3 linked regions of the Homo sapiens genome follow. The protein of the gene in region 2 purifies or fractionates together with the protein of the main gene of each other region. This does not show direct contact. Each region holds a gene or a part of one and is shown on either strand. Other genes may lie near its edges.

What was found. Proteins that work in one complex are often made in the same cells at the same time.
Region 1: the proteins of ELAC2 (region 2) and TRMT10C purify together in Homo sapiens (co-immunoprecipitation; 3 studies listed by BioGRID and IntAct, with this or other methods). This does not show direct contact.
Region 3: the proteins of ELAC2 (region 2) and RNF123 purify together in Homo sapiens (co-immunoprecipitation; 3 studies listed by BioGRID and IntAct, with this or other methods). This does not show direct contact.

What each region holds. Positions count from the first base shown.
Region 1 is NC_000003.12:101,556,920-101,564,886, reverse strand, and holds the start of TRMT10C (tRNA methyltransferase 10 homolog C precursor), read right to left. Parts: upstream 3,020-7,967; 5' UTR 2,884-3,019; intron 118-2,883; 5' UTR 106-117; coding exon 1-105. UniProt on the Homo sapiens protein: Mitochondrial tRNA N(1)-methyltransferase involved in mitochondrial tRNA maturation. Component of mitochondrial ribonuclease P, a complex composed of TRMT10C/MRPP1, HSD17B10/MRPP2 and PRORP/MRPP3, which cleaves tRNA molecules in their 5'-ends.
Region 2 is NC_000017.11:13,014,853-13,022,362, forward strand, and holds the start of ELAC2 (zinc phosphodiesterase ELAC protein 2), read right to left. Parts: upstream 3,176-7,510; 5' UTR 3,096-3,175; coding exon 2,851-3,095; intron 2,813-2,850; exon of another isoform or gene 2,715-2,812; intron 2,270-2,714; coding exon 2,219-2,269; intron 2,081-2,218; coding exon 2,010-2,080; intron 981-2,009; coding exon 916-980; intron 1-915. UniProt on the Homo sapiens protein: Zinc phosphodiesterase, which displays mitochondrial tRNA 3'-processing endonuclease activity. Involved in tRNA maturation, by removing a 3'-trailer from precursor tRNA.
Region 3 is NC_000003.12:49,706,321-49,713,575, reverse strand, and holds part of RNF123 (E3 ubiquitin-protein ligase RNF123), read right to left. Parts: intron 6,786-7,255; coding exon 6,678-6,785; intron 1,098-6,677; coding exon 920-1,097; exon of another isoform or gene 684-919; intron 64-683; coding exon 1-63. UniProt on the Homo sapiens protein: Catalytic subunit of the KPC complex that acts as E3 ubiquitin-protein ligase. Promotes the ubiquitination and proteasome-mediated degradation of CDKN1B which is the cyclin-dependent kinase inhibitor at the G0-G1 transition of the cell cycle.

The DNA.
Region 1 (7,967 bases), on a different chromosome or scaffold from region 2:
AATTGTTAAGTTATTTCTCTTCCTATGAAGGGTAAATGGCACCAAAAACCTGGTGAAAGGTCTGAAGAAATTGACACTAACACTCATTTTGAGGAAAGCAGCCATGTAACAAAACCCCTGTAAAAGAAGAAAAATGCAATTAAAAATTAGACAAAGATTTTTATAACTTCTCAACTAATTGTGCAAGTATAAATTTGAAATAGCAAAATAAAATCAATTTTTGAAACACAAGGTAAAATCTTTGTACCAATTTTTTTCCTAGACTCCTGTGGTCTACAGCCTGTGATCACTCATTGAGTAAAAAGTTTAAAACTTAGTTGGGTTCTTGGCCGGGCGCAGTGGCTCATGCCTGTAATCCCAGCACTTTGGGAGCCTGAGGTGGGTGGATCACCTGAGGTCAGGAGTTCAAGACTAGCCTGGCCAACATGGTGAGAAACCCCATCTCTACCAAAAATACAAAAATTAGCCAGGTATGGTGGCAAGCACCTGTAATCCCAGCTTCTCGGGAGGCTGAGGCAGGAGAATTGCTTGAACCCGGGAGTTGGAGGTTGCAGTGAGGCGAGATTGTGCCACTGCACTCCAGCCTGGGTGACAGAGTGAGATTCTGTCTCAAAAAAAAAAAAAAAAAAAGTTGGGTTCTTATTTTAGACATGAATTTCACTATTGCTTTAGCTAAAAGGATAAGTTGAAGATCCTTTTTAGATTTTTATCTAGGGGCCCAGAGAATCAATGTTACTGGGCAACAAAGTTATGTACCACCGAGGCAGCTGACATCATGATGCTGCATACTCCTCCATTCTACACTAAGCCCAGATACAGAACCAAACATAAGATCCTTCACAAAAGCAACAAATAAAGACAAAGGACATGAAAGGTACTGAGAATGGCAACAGGTAAAAAGCACTTAGAAACTGCTGTACCAATGCCCTCGTTACAGAAATATACCAAGATCTACTGATCAAAAAATAGCAACAAATTCTTCCCCAGTTCAGGCTTTATTTTGCAGCAAATAATGTTATTAACAAAGAAAATGTCCAAGATTGAGACAAATGTATATAAATGTATATAAAGCTCCACAGTTTTATCCTAAAAGCCTGGATGTCCATGAGATATTGAAGATGCTTAAAGATGTAAAACTTGTCTCAAATTTGAAGGAAAAGAAATAAAGGGAATTCAAATTTTTACAAAATGCAAATAAAACACTTGAAAAATTCCTTCTTCCCTTGGCTTCATTTAATGACCCTGCACAGGCTCCTAGGTTTCCTGCTCTCTGACCTGTGCACTGATGTCCAGATGCCCCTCCCTTAAAGGTGGATGTAACTCCGCATTCTATCCTATTCTTTTTTTTCAATCTATACATTTCCCTTCTGAGATGTGACCTACTTCTGTGGCTTCAATGACCATGCATTAGAAAGACATCTCAAATGCAGGCCGGGTGCAGTGGCTCACTCCTGTAATCCCAGCACTTTGGAAGGCCGAGGAGGGAGGATCGCTTGAGGTCAGGAGTTTGAGACCAGCCTGACCAACATGGCGAAACCCTGTCTCTACTAAAAATACAAAAATTAGCCAGGTGTGGTGGCGCATGCCTGTAATCCCAGGTACTCGTGAGGCTGAAGTGGGGCGATTCTTCTACTTCCCAGGTACTCGTGAGGCTGATGTAGAAGAATCGCTTGAATAAGGGGGGCGGAAGTTGCAGTGAGCCGAGATTTTGCAACAAAATCTGTTGCAGTGAGCGACAGAGTAAGACTGTCTCAAAACAACAAAAACAAACAAAAAACACCTCAAACGCAACAAATCGAAATAACCCCTCTACCTTTGCTTCACAATCTGATCCTCCTTCAATGTTCTGTTTCAAGGGATATTGCTATCCATTGGTATTGTTCCCAACATATATTTCTAAGCTTATTGCGGCCAGGTCAGCAGCATCTCTAGCTATTCTTCACCTCACACTTCAAGTATTCCACCATTACTTTTCACAGCACTCTGGTGCCTATGACAGTACTTCTAACACTGCACTGTAATTGCCTGGTTATCTATTTGCCTCACTAGATGGTAAGGACTAACTAGTGTCCATGAGGACAAGGACTTTGTCTATAATGTTAACATTGAATCCAATGCTTGACAGTATTTGGCTCACAGTAATCACGCAAATATTTTTCTAATACCCTAGATCGATGCTTCCTTCATTAAAAAAAAAAAAAAGAAAAAAAAAGTTCAGCCTCCCTTTATTATTTTTTTTGAGACGGAGTCTCGCTCTGTCACTCCAGGCTGGAGTATAGTGGCGCGATCTCGGCGCAAGCTCCGCCTCCCAGGGTTCACGCCATTCTCCTGCCTCAGCCTCCCGAGTAGCTGGGACTACAGGCACCCGCCACCACGCCCGGCTATTTTGTATTTTTAGTACAGACGGGGTTTCACTGTGTTAGCCAGGATGGTCTCGGATCTCCTGACCTCGTGATCCGCCCACCTCGGCCTCTCATTGTGCTGGGATTACAGGCGTGAGCCACCGCGCCCGGCTCAGCCTCCCTTTAAAGAGAAAACAATTTACTTTAGAATCCCGGAAATATTTAACTGGGGTCCCCAGGCCCCAATCTAATAAACATTGATTTCAGAAGGAGTTTTAAAAGTTTTATTCTTGTAACTGGCAAGGACTTAGAATACCACAGAAATGAAAACCCCAATTGTAAAAAGCAATCAAGTACATCATTTCAGGAACCACTGATTTTGTTTCAGGTACTGTACTAGTTATAGTTTATTAAAATCACTGGGCTTCCTCTTACCCGTGGGCCTTCCGAACGCACATGCTCCACTAAGTGCATCTTGGAACGTCTCCGGCGTCCTCCCACCCCCAACACACACATTAGGCGAAAGAAGAAACTCGCTTACCAGGAGTGCAGAGATAGTGGTTCCCGCTGGCGCAAAGAACAGGGACCCTGGAGGACGAAGGACTCCGACGTACGGACGCCCAGGGATCCGCGCCGAAGCTAGCACGCAGCCTACCCAACAGTCTACACAGCCGACCAGAGCGGTCGCTGGGGCTCAGCCGGAAGTTCCGCCCTCTCCCTTCCGGCGCTGCTTTTTACGTCACAGCACGCAAAGAACGCTTTCTTGGCTAAAAGAAGCGCCTTAGAGGAGACGGCTGTCAGTAGGCAACTGGGTACTCGAAGACTACGCTCTCAGTTGTCACGGAGTTGTAGCTGTGTTGTGTTGTGTTTTCCTCCATATATCCTAAAAACTTCTTCTGGGCCGGGCCAGTTGGCTTACGCCTGTTATCCCAGTGCTTTGGGCGGCCGAGGCGGGCGGATCACTTGGGGTCAGGAGTTTGAGACCAGCCTGGCCAACATAGTGAAACCCCGTCTCTACTAAAAATACAAAAATTAGCCAGGTGTGGTGGCGCGCGCCTGTAATCCCAGTTGCTCGGGAGGCTGAGGCAGGAGAATCGCTTGAACCTGGGAGGCGGAGGTTGCGGTGAGCTGAGATCGCGCCACTGCACTCCAGCCTGGGCGACAGAGCAAGACTCTCTGTCTCAAAAAAAAAAAAAAAAAAAAAAAAAAACTGTTTCTAATCCTCTTTTCAACCTACTCTCTGTTTGGGCCCTGTATTTATAAACATTTGCTGACAGAGTACTAAAATAAAGTATGTTTTTTTCACACGTCTTCTTACTCAGCTTCAAACTCCTTGACGCTAGGACTTTAAACTCCTAATCTTTTTGACCAGTTTATCACCAGTACCTGGCACTATGCTTGGAACGTGATAAGCCACGGTAAGTTTCTGTCTCCTCCTAGCTCATTTGGAAAGTTTAATGTGAAATGAAATTAAAACACATTTGTAAATTGGTGGCCTTTGGGGCCAATTCAGCCTCCACATATATTTGTAACCAAACACAGAATGAACATATTCTGCAGCCATTCTACTCCTAGTAATATACCCAAAGAAATTGAAAGCAGAGACACAAACAGACACTTGTACTCTAATGTCATTGTAGCATTATTGATAATAACCAAAAGGTGGAAGCAACCCAAATATCCATGAACAGATGAATAGATTAAAAAATGTTGCATGTACATACAATGGAATATTATTCAGTCTTAAAAAGGAATGAAGTTCTGATACATGGTACAACATGGATAAACTTTGGAGGCATTATACACTGAGATAAGCCAGGCACAAAAGGACAAATATTGTATAAGTCCACCTATATGAAGTGCCTAGAATAGTCAAATCATAAAGAAAGAAAGTAGAATAGTGTTTACCAGGGGCTGGGGAAAGGGAAGAATGGGCAGTTACTGTTTAATAGGTATGAATTTTCAGTATGGGATGATGAAAAAGTTCTGGAGATGGATAGTAGTGATGGTTGTACAAGAACGTGAATGTACTTAATGCCATTGAACTGTACACTTGAAAATGACTAAAATGGAAATGTTTATATTGTATATAGTTTACTAAAATAAAAGAAGGTAGGCATAGTCTTTTCCAAATGATTTTAAAAAACGAGATCTTGTCTAAGAGACTGATTACTATCATGTTAGAAAGGTGAGGTGGTGATAGCAAAATAATCATGAGTTTACTCCCAAACATGGAAAAAAATCAAGAATAAATATCGTCTAGTAGTTATAACAAATAGCAGTGTAGAGGTTATTTTTTCTTGTTCCTGTTCTTTAAAGAGATACATCTGAAGTTTTTCCATTAATATTTTATGAAGGTTTTTGCTATATGATCTTTGTCAAGTAAAGGAAATTTCATTCTGTTAAGTTTACTAAGATTCTTTATGTGAAAAATCTTTGGAAGTGTTTCTATAAATATAGCAGAACATAATTTATTCAATATGTCTGGGATCTGACCTATTCTAGATTAAGAATATTTCCAGGTTTCAGACATCTTACCTCCAACAAAAAGCACAGTGATTTTCAAAATACGTTTTTTTGTTTTTTTTTTTTGAGACGGAGTCTCGCTCTTTCACCCAGGCCAGAGTGCAGTGGCGCGATCTCGGCTCATTGCAAGCTCCGCCTCCCGGGTTTACGCCATTCTCCTGCCTCAGCCCCCGAGTGGCTGGGACTACAGGCGCCCGCCACCGCGCCCGGCTAATTTTTTGTATTTTTAGTAGAGACAGGGTTTCACCGTGTTAGCCAGGATGGTCTCGATCTCCTGACCTCGTGATCCGCCCGCCTCGGACTCCCACAGTGCTGGGATTACAGGCGTGAGCCACCGCGCCCGGCCTCAAAATACATGTTTTGGCATAGAAAAATAGCTTGTAATATGGGATGTAAGGTATCAAAAAAATAAAAAATAAATTGTAGGCCAGGAGCAGTGGCTCATGCCTATAATCAGCATTTTGGGAGGCCAAGGCAGGCAGATTGCTTGGGCTCAAGAGTTCCAGACCAGCCTGGCCAACGTGGTGAAACCCTCTCTCTACAAAAAATACACAAAAAAAGAAAAGAAAAAGAAATAAATTTTAAAAGCAAGGAAATATATAAAAACCCATAAGACAATGTCACATAAACACTAGAATTGAAAAACTAGAAGGTCTGAATGCTCTCTCTTGGCTCATATTTCTTCTTGGAAACAATGGTTAGACCTAAATAAAGGCTGTTTTGTAGTCAAGGCACCCACTCTCCAGTTCCCCAGAGCTTATTCCACCACATGTTATCTTTTCTACACTGGTGCAAATGTCATTTGCCATGTATTTTGCCTGCACTGTTTATTATATAATAGAGAACGATTTCTCTATACCAACGTCTCTTTCAAGAGTTGGAAGACAAAGCATGGATTCAAAGATTTAGGTGTTACTTACAAAGTAGAGAACTCTTGTATTTGATTCTCTGCTCTACCTTCAATGTCTACAACAGTGCTTGGCAAGTATCGGAAACTCAATAATAATTTGCTGATGAATGAATACTAAATAGATCAGGTAAGTGATGTTAGTGGCTTGGACAACAGTGGTGGCAGTAAAGGCAAAGAAAAGGGGGAATATTTGAAAGATATTTAAGAGCTGGACATGACAGAATTTGGTGATCAATTTGGGAGAGAAGGAGAGGAACAAGTCAATAGTCTGGTTTGAGCACCTGGGCAGACAGTGAAAAGGAGTATATGGTGTGAGGGCAGAGATGGTAAGTATAGTGTTAGACATGCGGCTTTTCATCTCTCTTCAAAATAGCCAAATGATATCTCCTTTAGGATATTTGGCAGTTGGCTGTATGGGTCTAGAGTTTAGGTGAAAGAAGAATGCACCAAAGATACATATTTGAGAGTTATTAACATAGAGTCTGTGAAACCATATGGGTGGAAGAGATTACCTAGGGCTTGGGTAGAGAACAGGAATGGACAAAAGAAACTGAAAATAAGCAGCTAAAGAGATGGGAGGAAAACAACCAGAATATGACATAGAAATCAAGGAAAAGGTGTTTTCAAAGACAAGTGGATGGGTAACAGGGTCAAATATTGCCTAGAGATCATGCAATGCAGACTGAAAAGTATCTACTAGATTTAGCAATACAAGGGCCACTGGGACCTTCATTGTGAGGTTTGGGGGCTTTAGCCAGATGAGAGTGAATAAGGAATGAGGAGATTATGAGAAAATAGAATCAGCAAGTTTAAACATTTCTATGAAATTTGTCTAAAGAAAAGACAGCGTGCTCAGTCCCTGGATGTGGAGTCCAGGAAAATTTTCTTCATTATTATTATGTTAGATTGGGAGAGGCCTGACATTTTAAATGCTGTTAGAATCATCAGCAAAGGGGTAAGAGAAAGAAAGGATAATGGGATGGGTAGACTTCCTGAGAAGATTAACAGAGATGGTATATAGAGGAGAGATGCTATTTAGAGGAGAGATGGAGAGATTGGTTTCGTATAAGAGGAAGAAATACCACTTTCATTGTAACAAGAAGAAAGGAAGAAACTTAAGGTGGGTATGGAGGACAATTTATAGACATGATGGCTATAATTTGATACAGTTCGCATTCTCTGTGAAAGAGGTAGACAGACTACCTCTGCGGATACTAAAGATTGGGTGAAGGTTTGTTATTGTCATAAAGAATAACATATAACAAATGTACAGAAACAGAAAGTAGAATGGTTGTTACTGTGGAGTCCTAATTAGGGAAAAGGAGTCAGGCTGGCGGGACCAGAGGAAAGCAAAGAGATAAAGCAAATAAGCTATAAATATGCCTGTCTTCACGGTTCAGGACATATAAACAAAAAAGGAAGAGGATGAATTATAGGTCTGTTTTTCTTTATGCCCAAGGACATATTGCCCAATACATATGGCCCTCCTACTCAGATAATGTACGTAACTCAAAAACTTACTGCTTACCAACAAACGCCTCAATTTATCAAACATCTCAGCTGACAAAAGAAAGCAAGTTATGCTGCCAGTGCATTGGCATTATCAATCAGCCCAAGTTCTATGTTATAAAATCTCCAGCTAATCTTTGTCTCTTTGCAGTCGGCTCCTCTTTTGCAGCCTTCCGGTTGCTTTATTGCAATGTATTTTCCTACTTTCTTTCTCTCTCTCTCTTTTTTTTTTTTTTTGAGAGGGAGTCTCGCTCTGACACCAGGCTGGAGTGCAGTGGTGCGATCTCAGCTCACTGCAACCTCCGCCTCCTGGATTCAAGCGATTCTCCTGCCTCAGCCTCCCGAGTAGCTGGGGCTACAATCATGCGCCACCACGCCCAGCTAATTTTTGTATTTTTAGTAGAGACGGGGTTTCACCATGTTTGCCAGAATGGTCTCAATTTCTTGACCTTGTGATCTGCCTGCCTCAGCCTCCCAAAGTGCTGGGATTACAGGCGTGAGCCGTGCCTGGCTTTTCCTACTTTCTTTAATAAATTTGCCTTTCTTTACAAGCGTTTTTGGTAAATTCTTTTACTCCAGAGCCACCGGCCCAGATAGTTGTCCCTGCCACCCCCTGTGACAGTTACCAGGAATGGTGGAGTTGTTTAATGAGTTTCAGATATGCAAGATGAAAAAGTCCT
Region 2 (7,510 bases):
CCCTCTAGCTGAGCCCTGAAGGTTCAGTAACAATATAGGCAGCAATTAGAAGAGGCAGAGGGAACCCGCGGAAGGGCGAAAGTCCTGAAGTGGCCAGGGAGTTAGAGGGACATAAGAGTCAGCCCATGCAGCTGCAGTTCAGCGATGGGTACAGATGGAAGTGTGGGTAGCGGCCGGGGCCTACAGGACTTGTAGGCCATATCAAGGTGTTTTGATTGTATTGCAATGGGGAGCCCATGAAGGGCTTTAGGGTGGCAAGTGACACACTACTTTTCTGTCTTGAAGTGACCTCTCTGGCTGCTGTGTGGCAGATGGATTACAGGAAGGCGAGAATGAATATGGGAGGCTATTGTAGTTTACAGGCATAGAAAACAGAAATAAGGAAGGCCTCAATAAGAGACAAATGGATGGATTTCAAACGTTATTTTGGGGAAAGACTTAACAGGTCTTGGTGACTTTCTTCTTAAGGACTGGAAAATGAACTGTTATATTCAACAACACACACACGCCTTCTCAAGAGTGTAATAAGCTGGACTGAAAGGTAAGAAGATGTCAGAAATTTATTGAATAAAAACAAAAGCTGCCCTTTCTTGTGTGCCTACTTGGTGCCAAACATATATCTAATAAAGTGATTTAGTGCTTTATATGTGCTGCTACGTCATTTAATCTTTAACAACTCTATGAAACGTGATAGTCATCTTATAGATGAATAAACTAAAGCTCAGAAAGGTAAAGTAACTTGATCAAGGTCACATAGTTAATCAGAACTCAAGTCTTTTTAACTTGAAAGGGGAAGCGTTTCAACGACCAGGTATCTCTGGAGGGCAGAAGACTGATTTGCAAAAAGGAAAATTCTTGTTACTGATATTACAAAAGGAAAGATTGCTTTTGAAAGATGTGTCAGGAAAGACTCACCAGTTGTGGAGGTCCAGAAAGTACACACTTTGGAAGCCCGGTTTCCTTTAAAGTAAGAATCATTCCTAAAAAGGATGCATAAAATCAGATCTCTCATCAATTTGACCTGTCGTCACTAACAGGAGGAGCACCCCGTACTAATCCAACTATTTATCTACATCTCCACCTTCCAGCTTTGGAAGTACAACCAGGGAAGATGTACAGAGCAGAAGTGATGCCAGCTAGAGGTGTAACAGACACCAAATATTCTTTAAATGCCTCTAGAATGGGCTGAGCTGTCACTAGGGTGAAGCAGCAAGGCACCCAGTGTGCAAAATGTAAGGAATCATGCAAGTGAAGGGCTGGCACCCTAAGTGCCTCACCCTAGTCTCAGCCCTGAGAAGGGAGACTGGTCTAACACTTCACTCCTTCCGGTCCATGCCACCAAGCCCACACAATTTGGCTGCAACACAATCCTGACCTTCCGGTTGATAGACATAAATGACAGGGTAATCTGGACAGTGGGTATGTGTGTGGCTGCCAATGTGCCAATGGCGTCTGCGGTAAACATATTAACTGTAATCACCACTGCTAGACTCTCCAGTTTACTGCCACAAATCTCTGTCCCCGCAACGCAAGAAACTAAGTGGATGGTAACACTTAAGAGGTGGTATCCATATTAAAATCTGTTCTCCTGAGTCACAGCTTTTAATGCTCTGTGCTGCTGCTGACTGGGCTGGTATAAAAAGAATTCCAGGCCAGGTGCGGTGGCTCATGCCTGTAATCCCAGCACTCTGGGAGGCCGAGACAGGAGGATCGCAGAAGTTTGAGACCAGCCTGGGCAACATAGCAAAACCCCGTCGCTACAAAACATACAAAAAAAATTAGCCAGGTGTGATGGGGCACACGTGTGGTCCCAGCTATTTGGGAGGCTGAGGTGAGGGGATCACCTGAGCCCAGAAGGCAAAGGTTGCAGTGAGCCAAGATCACGCCACTGACAAAAAAAAAAAAAAAAAAAAAAGTAGCTGCCCACCCCAGACTTGGAAAAATGGTAAAGCCGGTTAAAATCCCAGAGACTTCCCACCAGCCTCTGACACTGCAAAGAATATACTCACCACTTAAGCCCCCAACATTAGACCAGTGCATTCGTGTCAGGAATATGTTGTCCAGGCGAGCAACCTTTAACCTAAGAATGAAAAAACATTTAAACAGGATAACATGAACAGAACAAGGACCACTTTTGCTATAAAAAACAACTGGCCTCTCATTTCGGCTTTCAAGCCCCGTAATCAACTCCCCCTCCGAAAGCAAGAGACTGACTCACTTGTGCTCCTGCATGAGTCTCTGAACGCCTTCTCCACAGTTGAAGAGATACCTACAAGACAAACATTACACAAGACATTCAGAAGGTTTTATTCTGTAAACTCTCTGACACCAATTAGATGTTTTATTGTAGACTCTGGAAAAAAAAAAAAGAAAAAAAAATTAAAAGTCCACGTTGGACTACCGAGCCACATTTATGCTGGTGGGTTTTGAGCCCTCCTTAGCAGAGGTGGAGAGGAGTGGGGGCCTGTGTGTGTGGGTGCTAGGACAAAATGAGTCCTTTCTCCACCACCGGCTACACACCAGATCTGTCCACCCCACACGCTAACAACGACACACTGGCCTTGGGGTGCACGGAAGAGGGTGGAGCTCCGAAAGTGCTGACAGCCAGGCCGGGGCCCAAGGGTTGGGAAAAGGACGCTCAGACCCAGGCCTGAAGTTCTTCACAGATCCGCAGAAATCACATGGATGCAAAGAATCTCGGATTTCCCACCCACCATAACTCCACGAACCCCCGCAACAGTGAACCACATGTGTGAAGCAGGGAAGCCGAAGCCCTGGGAGGTGCCCCGATGCTCAGAGGCTGCGCCGCACTGAGGGCCCAGCGGGACGGGGCGTGGCTCGTTGACTGACCGGTTGAACTCGGAGAAGACGTAGAGCGCGGCGCCCGAGTCCCGGCTACCCGCTGCCACCACCTGCAGGTACACGGTGTTTGGGCCGCCGGAGCACCCCGACGGTCCGCGCTTCTCTCGCGTGCGCAGGTGCCGCAGCGGGTCCTTGCGCGGCCGCTCGCGGCGGGCGGGTGCCTGCGATATGGTGCGTCCCTGCGACATGGTGCGTCCGGCCGCGGACCGCAGCAGCGAGCAAAGCGCCCACATGCGCCCGTCTCCACCAAAACTGAGAAAGCCGCCGGTCACCTACGCCCGCGTTTCCCGTGCACCACCTAGCCGCTCCGCATGGCGGATCCAGCCAATCAGCGCGCCGTGCACCGAGCTTCCCGCCTACGCGAGGCTGCTCATCCAATAGAAAGGAGCTTTACCGCTCGGGACTTGTCAATTGACAGTGGCCATAGAGTAGAGGAATACTAGAGCGTCTCAAGCGGCCCCGCCCCTAGTTCTGTTCCGGTTTGCCGGCCGCAATTTTTTCCGGAAGCTGTTTTTCTCCTGGGGCGGGACTTCCGGAAGCACAGTGCCAGGAAAAGCCTTCCTGGGGAAGGCGGGACCTAGGAGTTTGGAGTTTCGCTAAAACGCTCCTGTTCTCACCAGATAAGAGCTGTGTCCTCCGGGCACGTCAGTCCCTCAGAGCTTGAGTTAGAGGTGGTTGTAGTGGTTGTGAGGATTAAATGTGAGGAAATCAATTGTATTGAGCATTAGCATAAGCGCTTTGCTAATTTTATTTCCATTGTAATTCGTATGCATACATGTTAGAACTTGATCATTTTTACGTGGTGTCCCGAGCTTGTAGTCCCAGCTACTTGGGAGGCTGAGGCAGGAGAATCGCTTAAGCGCGGAGGCGGAGGTTGCGGTGAGTCGAAATCGCGCCACTGCACTCCAGCCTGGGTGACACCTCGAGACCCTGTCTCAAAACAAAACAAAACAAAACAAAAATTGTAGTGTTTTTTGGAAAGAAAAGCAAGAATAGAGGACAAGCTCTAAAGCAAGAGTCTTGGCTCATTTGTTAGCTGCGTGATCTTGACCTCTCAGAGCCTCAGCTTTCTTATGTGTAAAATGTAATAACAGCAATAACAGTATCTCCTACTTCAGAATATAGAATTCAGTCACCTGATAATATATCAATAGACCTTTGAGTGGCACTGTCACAGAAGAGGCACCCAGTAAATGATAGAAAATTAATACAAAATGTTTCAACTCCTAGACAATATAGCTGACCAGGGACATCACAGAGGTAGATGTCCCAATACCAGCTTTTTGAAAAAAACACCCAGTCCCCTCTTATGTAGCTAATGAGGATTTCTCACTGAAAGGGATATCAGTTAAAGCCGCTAGAAATACAGGGAGCTCCCTTAAAAGAGGAAGATAATTTACCTGGAAGCTCCACTCAAATATGATTTTTTAAAGATAATTTACCTGGAAGCTCCACTGACATATGATTTTTTTAAATAAATACTGAAAGATGTCACTTTTATTCAGGAAGTAAGGGAGATTCAAGTCATGTAGATTCCTACTCGAAAATCTTGACACCTGACTTTCCAGGATCACATTTTCATATGGAGACCAGTTTCCTCTTGGTTTCTTCAGTTAAGTCAAAACTACACGTTCCTCTTTCCCCATATATTTTTGCTCATTAGTGTATTTCTTGAGCTGTTTTCATTCAAATATGAAATTTTTTATGGAAGATTATCACCCACGGTGTGAAAACGTTTTGTACTTGAAATAACCATCCCAGTGAGGGTCAGGAAAACACTTCAGATCTACTTTACACAGTTAGAGGGCGTTACAAACTGAAAAGATTATCATACCACCATCTCCATAAGTATTTGAAATAAAAATGATAGTTTTTAAAAGTTGCTTAAAGCCTGGGCACCGTGGCACATATCTGTAATCCCAGCACTTTGGGAGGCCAAGGCGGGAGAATAGCTTCAGGCTAGTAGTTCAAAACCTGCTCTGTGGCCAGGCATGGTGGCTTATGCCTGTAATCCCAGCACTTTGGGAGGCCGAGGCAGGTGGATCACCTGAGGTCAGGAGTTCGAGACCAGCCTGGCCAACATGATGAAACCCCGTCTCTACTAAAAACACAAAAATTAGCCGGGAGTGGTTGCATGGGCCTGTAATCCCAGCTACTGGGGAGGTTGAGGCAGGAGAATCACTTGAACCCCAGAGACAGAGGTTGCAGTGAGCCAAGATCACACCATTGCACTCCAGCCTGGGTGACAGAGGGAGATTCCATCTCAAAAACAAACAAACAAACCAGCTCTGGCAACAAAGCGAGACCTCATCTCTACCAAAAAATACTAAAAAATTTAAAAATAAGTAAAAATTAGCTGGACATGGTGGCACACACCTGTTGTCCCAGCTACTCTGAAGGCTGAGACAGGAGGATCACATGAACCCAGGGGTTTGAGGCTGCAGTGAGCTATGATCATACCACTTTACTCCAGCCTGGCTGACAGAGTGAGACACTCTCTACAAAAAAAAAAAAAAAAAAAAAAGAAAAAGAAAATTAATTCATTAAAACTACTTTTAAAAAGTGTAGTGCAATAAATAAAATACTGATTTTTTTCCTGTGATGACTGCTTTGATCCTTTTAAAAAATATATCAAATTTCACAAACAAAAATACATTGGTTCCTCTATTTTATTGGTGCCCTATGTGCATATCTATCTGTTGGGTAATCTCAAACTACTTATCTCAAAATTATAGGAGGAATCACTTTTGGTCATCGACTTATATAAAATTCTGAGGGCTGGATGCTATTTAGGTTGTTTCTAGGGCCCAGTGTACTTTCTGCACTTATGCTTTGGGTCATATTTTTATTCCTGGTATATGAAGACAATAGCTAGTACTTCTTCAATCTGAGGTTATACTGGAATGTAAATTTCATGAGCCTGGGATTTGTCTATCTGGTCCTCTGCTGTATCATTAGCTCCTAGGACAGAGTCTGGCTTGTGGCAGACAATAAATACTAGGAAATTAGAAGCAAGCCAGTAGCTTAAATGAGGTTTTCAGTTTACAACTAAGCAGGGCCTAAAATTGAATCAAGACAACAATGTATGTGTTTTCTGAAGGGGATTGGTGTGACTGGTACCTCCAAAAGGATAGTTCAGAGAGTCTGAAACAGAAAAGTGTCTCTGGACTTGCTGGAGTAGAGGCAGCCTGACCATCGGGACAGCAGAGAAAGTGGAAATCGAGGCGACAGACTTTCAGAAGTCAGTGATATTAACAATTAATATAATACAGCCACTTCCTCTTGCTTTGAGTCTCTTTTTGTTATCCATTTTGTATATGGGCAGCTTGTGGCTTGAAATCACTTTCAGTCCTTTTGTTGGTCACGGTTGTGTTTAGTAAGAATAGCCTGTCTCTGCTCCTTGCAGTGGCTGCTGGGTGGCTCAATGGGAGTGGAACCTCACACTCACAGGTGTGGGTCCTGGGTACTGGCCCTGCTGGGGGTGCTTTGGTTCATTTCCCATTGCCTCTCCATCCATGTAGACTGTCCACATTCAGTAGTTAGGCTGAGCTTCTCTGAATGGTGGTCAGCCTCCAAAAGGATGAAATGAAATTGCAATGCTTCTGAAGAATTAGGCCCAGAAGTCAACGCAAGACACAGACAGCACCCACCTAGATTCAAAGGGAGGAAAATTATATTCTACCTCTTGAGGGGAGAAGTATCAAAGTCACATTGCAAAAGAGCCCTTGACGTGGAAAAGTCCAGGCTTTCTTGGAACCCTCTGATTATCCTACGGGGGGGTCCTATGAAGAGATGGCTGCCAGGCAGAATAATCTGGCCAATGAATGCTGGGAGCAGTACATTTTCATATGCCTGTAGTTACAAAGGTATAATTTATAACTTGACTTTCTTCTGTACACGCTTGTAAGTATGGTTGCCATAAGCTAGTCCACTCATATGTGGCCATCTCTTGGGTATATTTATAAATCAGACTTTTGTACCTACAAAGCTGGGGCAGTTCCTGCGATCCCCAAGATCTGGTGATCTGACCAAGGGACACATACTTTGGGACCCTGTCTGAAATACCCTCTGGCTTTCTCCACACAGACATTCATTCATTGATTCATTCAGTACACTCACACACACACACACACGAGTTTCTAGACACTCTTCTAGGGTTCTAGATGCTGTACTAAGACCTTGGTGTACAGAAAGATGAACAAGGTCTTGCTCTCAGAAAGCTCAGAAAGTTGGTGTCTTGGGCACAGGGATGGGGCCCCAGGGCACACAGGAAAACATTATAATAGATGCTTTTGTCTTCATTGGGTCTGAGGTGTTTCTGGTTTAGAGCCCTAGAAACCCAACAACTCCAAACTTGATGGCCACAATGCATCAGAGGGATAATTGGTTTTTGAAACAAAAGTTACTTTGGGCTGGGCACGATGGCTCACAACTGTAATCCCAGCACTTTGGGAGGCCCAGGCGGGTGGATGACTTGAGGTCAGGAGTTTGAGACCAGCCTGGCCAACATGGCGAAACCCCGTCTCCACTAAAAATACAAAAATTAGCTAGGCGTGGTGGTGGGCACCCGTAACCCCAGCTGCTCAGGAGGCTAAGGCAGGAGAATCACTTGAACCCGGGAGGCGGAGGTTGCAGTGAGCCAAGATCG
Region 3 (7,255 bases), on a different chromosome or scaffold from region 2:
TGCGTGCGTCGGCAAAGTGTTTGGCGAGAATGGCAGCCAGGCGGGTCAGGGTCTCTTCATAGCCTGCAAGGGTGGGAAGTGAGACGTGTCGGCTGGGAGTGGGGGCTCCAGAGGCAGGCATGTCAGCAGGGTGGGTGGACTTGGGTAGCAGGCTCTAGAGCTGGCTCCCAAGGCCAGCCTGGACCCAGGGTGGCATCTGGGGACATCGGGCAAAGCATTCATTGGTGGCTGTGCAAGGGCTAAGGCACAGGCTCACTGTGAAGGGATGACAGGCCCTGGCAGGAGCCCTGACCTGGGCTCAAACCCATCTCAGCACACACACCTGATGAGCAGTCAAAGCTCCTTGGGCACTCACAGCTCTGTCTTTGAAGACAAAGCCTGCACTGAGGCCTGTGGCTGGGCAGGGGGCAGGCTAGGGGCCTGACAGCTCACTGCCTGATCCAGACATACACTGCCACGCCCAGCCTGGAATCAGCAGGCTGAGAGGCCCAGGTTCGGATGTGGACCCTAGCAGGGTCCACCCCCTGCTGTGATTTACCAAGACAAACCATTCTGCCCCTGACCAACTGCTACGCTTTGTGACCAGTGCCAGGGAGTCAAGGTGCAAGGCCAGCTGGCTCCTGGACCATGGCAGTTGCTCATAGCACTAGGAAGGAAGTGAAAGCCAAGAGGTCTACACCCACCGTGTTCCATCTTGTCTGTTTTCCTTTGCTAGGGAGCTGTTGGCTCTGTGGCTGCAGGTCCCAGGGCAGGGTGCAGACGTTTGTTTGCTGCAGGGTGAACCACAGAGGAAGCTCCTCCCCTCCCCGCCCCCCACAGAAGTGTGTTGCTGGGCCACAGAGGTCTCAGACCAGGGCTCCTAGGGCTCACACTAGAGACCCCTTTTCTGCTTCTGCCTCAGCCTGAATGGTTCCATCACCTGGGAGCTCCTCCATGCTGTGCACGGGACCAAAGTAATTCTTGAGAGCACTGTAGCTGTTGATGGCCACGCTCAGGTAGAACTCGGGCATGAAGGCAAAGAGAGACCCTGTGCGATCACCGTGCTCAATGGTCCGCAGGCAGACGCGCAGCAGCCAGTAGATGTCCAGCATCTTCTCCTGCAGGAGGCACACGGGGTGCTGCTGGGTTGCGCACCAGTGGGGTCTTGGGGGCATGTCCTGGCCTGGGGATCAGGAAAGGCCTCCCCAGGCCTACGACAGCACAACTGAGACCTGGATTTCAGGAAGCATGAGCAGTAGCTCAAGCAGGGCAATCAAGTCCTCAGCAGGCAAGAGGGACGCACTCAGCCTGGAGGGCGCATTACTGTGACCCAGGCCAGAACTCTGGTCAGCATATTTGTAAGCAAGTTTTTTTTTTTTTTGAGATGGAGTCACCCAGGCTGGAGTGCAGTGACGCCCTCTTGGCTCACTGGAAACCTCCGCCTCCCAAGTTCAAGGGATTGTCTTGCCTCAGCCTCCCGAGTAGCTGGGACTACAGGTATGTGATACCGCGCTCGGCTAATTTTTGTATTTTTAGTAGAGATGGGGTTTCGCCATGTTGGCCAGGCTGGTCTTGAACTCCTGACCTCAGGTGATCTGCCTGCCTCAGCCTGTAAGCAAGTTTTAGGCAAGAGGGTGCTGTGACTGGAAGTCTGTGTGGAAAAGTGGAGTACAAGGTGTGTGAAGGGCCCAAGAGAGCTGGCGATGGTAAGCAGACAGGCAGAAATTTGATCTGGAGTGCAAAGGAGAAGGTGGTGGGAAAGCAGGGGGCAGTGTGACTGGTGGAACAGAGGTCACAGGAAACAGACAAAACCTGCTGAGGGCCCTGCTCCCCACAATGTGGTTTCCACAAAGTCTATGTCAGGGTCTCACAAAGGAGCCCAGGCAAGAATGAGGCCTCAGGCCCCAGCCCAGACCCACAGCACCCGTGTGTCTTGGAGTGCGGTCACAGCACCTGGGCTTCACACCAGCTCTCTGATGTGCCCTAAAGCCCAAGGAACTGAGGAGAAGATGTAAGCAAGAGGTTAGGGGAGGGCCTAGGCGCAAACCTAGGCAGCGATGATCCTGCTGCTACAGAAGGCCAGCGAAGACTGTGTCTGGTGAGGGGCTGGCAATGGCCCCATCAGAGCTAAGGTATCAATGCAAAGGAGATGGAAATGTGCCGGCCGGATTGAGATGGGGGCAGACAGAGACCCTGGTGAGACTATTTCAGAGATGGGGAAGAGCCTGTGCTGGAGGGAGATGAAGGGGAAGATGTAGCAGCTAAGACAGAGAAAGAAGGAGAGAGCATAACTTTTGGGCACATATAGCGTCAAGGCTGGAATGCAGTGGCACAATCACAGCTCACTGTAACCTGGAACTCCTGGGCTCATGTGATCCTCCTACAGGTATGTGATACCACGCCCTGCTAATTTTTGTATTTTTAGGAGAGATGGGGTTTCGCCATGTTGGCCAGGCTGGTCTTGAACTCCTGACCTCAGAGTAGCTGGGACTACAGGTATGTGTCACCATGCCCCGCTAATTAAATTTTGTTTTTTTTGTAGAGATGGGTTGCCCAGGCTGGTCATGAACTCTTGGCTTCAAGTGATCCTCCCGCTTCAGCCTCCCAAAGTGCTGGTTTACAGGAGTGAATCTCTCCATTAATAATGGGATTAGAAAGACACAGGTGAGTTAGTGCTGAAGATGCAGAGAATGAAGGCAGTTCAACATAATAAAGACCATATATGAAAAGCCTCCATCTAACATCACACTCAGTGGTAACAGACTATAATCCCTCCCTCCCTCAGACCAAGAACAAGACAAGTGTGCCACTTTCTCTACTTCTGCTCAGCACAGTCCTGGAAATCCCAGCCAGAGCAACTAAGCATGAAAAAGAAAGGAAACCACACTGGAAAGGATAAAGTAAAATTATCTCTGTTCACAGACATGATTTTATAAGTAGAAAATCCTAAAGATACACACACACACACAAAACCCCAACTAGGATTAATAAATAAATTCAGCAAAATTATAGGATATGGCCAGGCGCGGTTGCTGAAGCCTGTAATCCCAGCACTTTGGGAGGCCGAGGCAGGCGGATCACCTAAGGTCAGGAGTTTGAGACCAGCCTGACCAACAAGGTGAAACCCCATCTCTACTAAAAATACAAAAATTAGCCGGGCGTGGTGGCGTATGCCTATAGTCCCAGCTACTCAGGAGGCCGAGGTGGAAGAATCGCTTGAACCTGGGAGGCAGAGGTTGCAGTGAGCCAAAATCTTGCCACTGCACTCCAGCCTGTGCCACAGAGCGAGACTCCCTCTCAAAACAAAACAAACAAACCAACAAACAAAAGATATGCAAATGGCCAATAAGTGCTTGTAAAGGTACTATTTGTCATAATGTCACTAATCATTAGCAAAATGCAGAACCACAATAAGGTACCATATCCTACCCATTAGGATTTACTATTAAAAAAGTAGAAATTGCCGGGTGTGGTGGCTCATGCCTATAATCCCCGCACTTTGGGAGGCCGAGGCAGGAGGATTCCTTGAACCCAGGAGTTTGACAACTGGGCAACATAGTGAGACCCTGCGTCTACCAAGAAAAAAAAAGGGCAGAAAATAAGAAGTGTCGGTAAGGATATGTATGGAGAAATTGGAACCCTCATGCACTACTGGTGAGAATGTAACAGGCACAGCCACTGTAGAAATGATATGGTAGTTTCCAAAAAATTAAACAACAGAATTGGCCGGGCGCGGTGGCTCATGCCTGCAATCCCAGCACTTTGGGAAGCCGAGGCAGGCGGATCACCTGAGGTCAGCAGTTCAAGACCAGCCTGACCAACACGGTGAAACCCCATCTGTACAAAAAATACAAAAATTGCAGGGCGCGATGGCTCACGCCTGTAACCCCAGCACTTTGGGAGGCCGAGGCGGGCGAATCACCTGAGGTCGGGAGTTCAAGACCAGCCTGATCAATATGAAGAAACCCCATCTCTACTAAAAAAAAATACAAAATTAGGCCAGGCGCGGTGGCTCACGCCTGTAATCCCAGCACTTTGGGAGGCCGAGGCGGGTGGATCACGAGGTCAGGAGATCGAGACCATCCTGGCTAACACGGTGAAACCCTGTCTCTACTAAAAATACAAAAAATTAGCCGGGCGTGGTGGCAGGCGCCTGTAGTCCCAGCTACTCGGGAGGCTGAGGCAGGAGAATGGTGTGAACCCGGGAGGCGGAGCTTGCAGTGAGCTGAGATAGCGCCATTGCACTCCGGCCTGGGTGAAAGAGTGAGACTCTGTCTCAAAAAAAAAAAAATACAAAATTAGCTGGGCGTGGTGGCACATGCCTGTAATCCCAGCTACTCAGGAGGCTGAGGCAGGAGAATTGCTTGAACCTGGGAGGCAGAGGCTGCCGTGAGCCGAGATCGCGCCATTGCACTCCAGCCTGGGCAAGAAGAGCAAAACTCCACCTCAAAAAAAGAAAAAAAAAATCACAAAAATTAGCCGAGCATGGTGGTGCGCACCTGTAGTCCCAGCTACTCGGGAGGCTGAGGCAGGAGAACACTTGAACCCAGGATGTGAGCCGAGATCGCACCATTGCACTCCAGCCTGGGTGACAGAGTGAGACTCCATCTCAAAAAAAATAAAAAATTAAAATTAAAAATAAAATAAAAAACAGAATTACCATATGATACAGTAATTCCACTTCTGGGTATATAACCAAAAGAATTGAAATTAGGGTCTCAAAGAGATCTTTGCAAACCCATGTTCATTACAGCATTATTCACAGTAGCCCAAAGTAGAAGCAACCCGAGTGTCCATCAGCAAAGGACTGGATATATGAAATGTGGTGTCCGTACAACAGAATATTATTCAGCCTGGAAAATGAAGAAATTCTGACACATGCTATAACACGAATGAACCTTGAGGACATTATGCTAAAGCCATACACAAAAGAACAAATAGTGTATGATTCTTCCTAGATGAGGTGCTTAGTATAGTCAAATTCAGAGACAGAAAGTAGGATGGTGGTTGCCAGGGGCAACCTGAGCTAGCCTCAGAACAGGGCCATGGTGGTCCCCTCATGACATGGAAGTAAGGCCCAGCTGGGGGTCTGTGAGCCGCTGGCCAGAGCACTCAGGGACCTGATGCCAGAACCACTGCTCCCCCAGCTGCCAGACCCAGGGATCTGCTGACAGGTGGGGATGGGTGGGAGCTGTCAGGGAAGCTGGGGAAGGGAGGACAGGAGGTTTTGTTCAACAGGCACGGAGTATCAGTTTTGCAAGATGAAATGAGTGTGGAGATTGGCTGCACGACAATGTGAATAGACTTAACACTTAAAAATGGCTATGATGGGTGACCGGGCACAGTGGCGCACGCCTGTAACCCCAGCACTTTGGGAGGCCGAGGTGGCAGGATCACATGAGGCCAGGAGTTTGAGACCAGCCACGCCAACAAAGTGAAACCCTGTCTCTACCAAAAAATACAAAAAGTAGCTGGGCGCGGTAGCACATCTATAATCCAGGAGAACTGCTTGAACCCGGGAGACAGAGGTTGCAGTGAGCCAAGATCATGCCATTGCAGTCCAGCCTGGGCAACAGAGTGAGACTCTGTCTCAAAAAAAACACAAAACAAAACAAAACAAAAAAAACACAGCTAGGATGGTACATTTTATGTCACACATATTTTAGCATAACTAAAAAAAGGCAGAGAGATGAGAGGGCAAGGGTCTTGAGAAGACAGTGTGGGAGAGGGCAGCCAAACTTCTGAGGGAGGTGGGCAGGCAGGAAATCTCAGGGCAGAAGGGAGAGGAAGTTCCCGTCATGGGGCAGTAAGCACGGTCATCCAGGGTAGCAGGAGAGTCACGAATGGGAAAAAGGTGGAGGTGGTTTGGGTTTTGCAAAAGAGCCATGAGAAGAAACAGCAAGCAGAGATGATAGAAATGGGGATACCAAAGGCCTCGATCACCCAGTCATGCAGGGGTATGCCCAAGAAGACAGCAGATACCCTGACCTGGGCACCTGAAGAGACCCTCAGGGCACTCACTGGTTAGGGAAGAGATGCCAAGAGGGGCAGGGAGAGGAAACAAGTCCAGAGAGTCTGAGGCCTGGGGGTGAAACTTCAGTCACAGCAGGAGTGCCCCATCCATCTGTCTGTCCATCCATGTATCTGACCAGGCTGAGTGCCTTCAGAAGGCAGAGGCTCATCTTTCTGACTTATTAATGTGTGTGTGTCCCTAGTTCCAGGACAGCACCTGGCACACACCAGGTTTTGAGTGCATGTTATTGAATGAATGAGCAAGTGAATGAGTGAGTGGGGAACAAGCCAGTGGCCTCGGGTGGTAATGAGTCAGACAGAGGCAGGCACAGATGGTGGAGTGTGCCTCCGGGAAAGACTGCAGAGCCCCTGATGCACTGGGAGAGAAGGACGGGGGCCAAGAAACTGGGAGGGGGTGGGAGCAGGGGAGGCAGACAGACAGAGTTTGTTCCTCGAAGGACAGGTCTATGAGGCGAACTGGAGGTCCAGAAACTGCGCTTCCTCAGTCCACAGAGCATGAGGGGTACAGGGGACATGGCATGGGGTGATGGAGTCTGAAGTGTGGGAAGGGACATGTGTGTGCCAGAGGCCTGAGAGGGTGGGGGCATCAAGGGCCCTGGCACAATCTTGCTAGACCCGTGGCCAGACAGTGAGGTCGGGAAGGGGCAGCTGCAATACCAGCACACCTGGGAGTAGACAGTGGCATGGACCCAGGCAAGACGGCGGCTCAGGTGGTCCAGCTTTTCTGAGAAAACCTTCTGGCTCTTGGTCAACTCTGCAAGGATGTCCTTCCTCTGCCACCCAAGGGGAAAGGAGGACAATCAAGACATGGCCCCATACCCAGGTCCACCCTGATCCTGCAGGCAGCCTAGGAAGGGCCCTCTAGTGCCTGGAGCAGGCAAGGGATTGGGCTCCATTTTTCAAAACCTTCTTCTGCCACTGACCCTCTGGTGACCCTGAGCCAGCCTCAGAACAAGGCCATGGTGGTCCCCTCATGACATGGAAGTGAGGCCCAGCTGGGGGTCTGTGAGCCGCTGGCCAGAGCACCCAGGGACCTGATGCCAGAACCGCTGCTCCCCCAGCTGCCAGACCCAGGGATCTGCTGACAGGTCGGGGTGGGTGGGGGCTGTCAGGGAAGCTCAGCCTGGACACACTGGGCCCCACCTTCCTGGGCTAGGGCAGCTACAGCAGAGGGCTCCGGAGGGTGCAGTGGAGCCAGGCCCTGCTTCCTGCTGACTCTGCAAGTGGCCGAGGAAGCACTCAG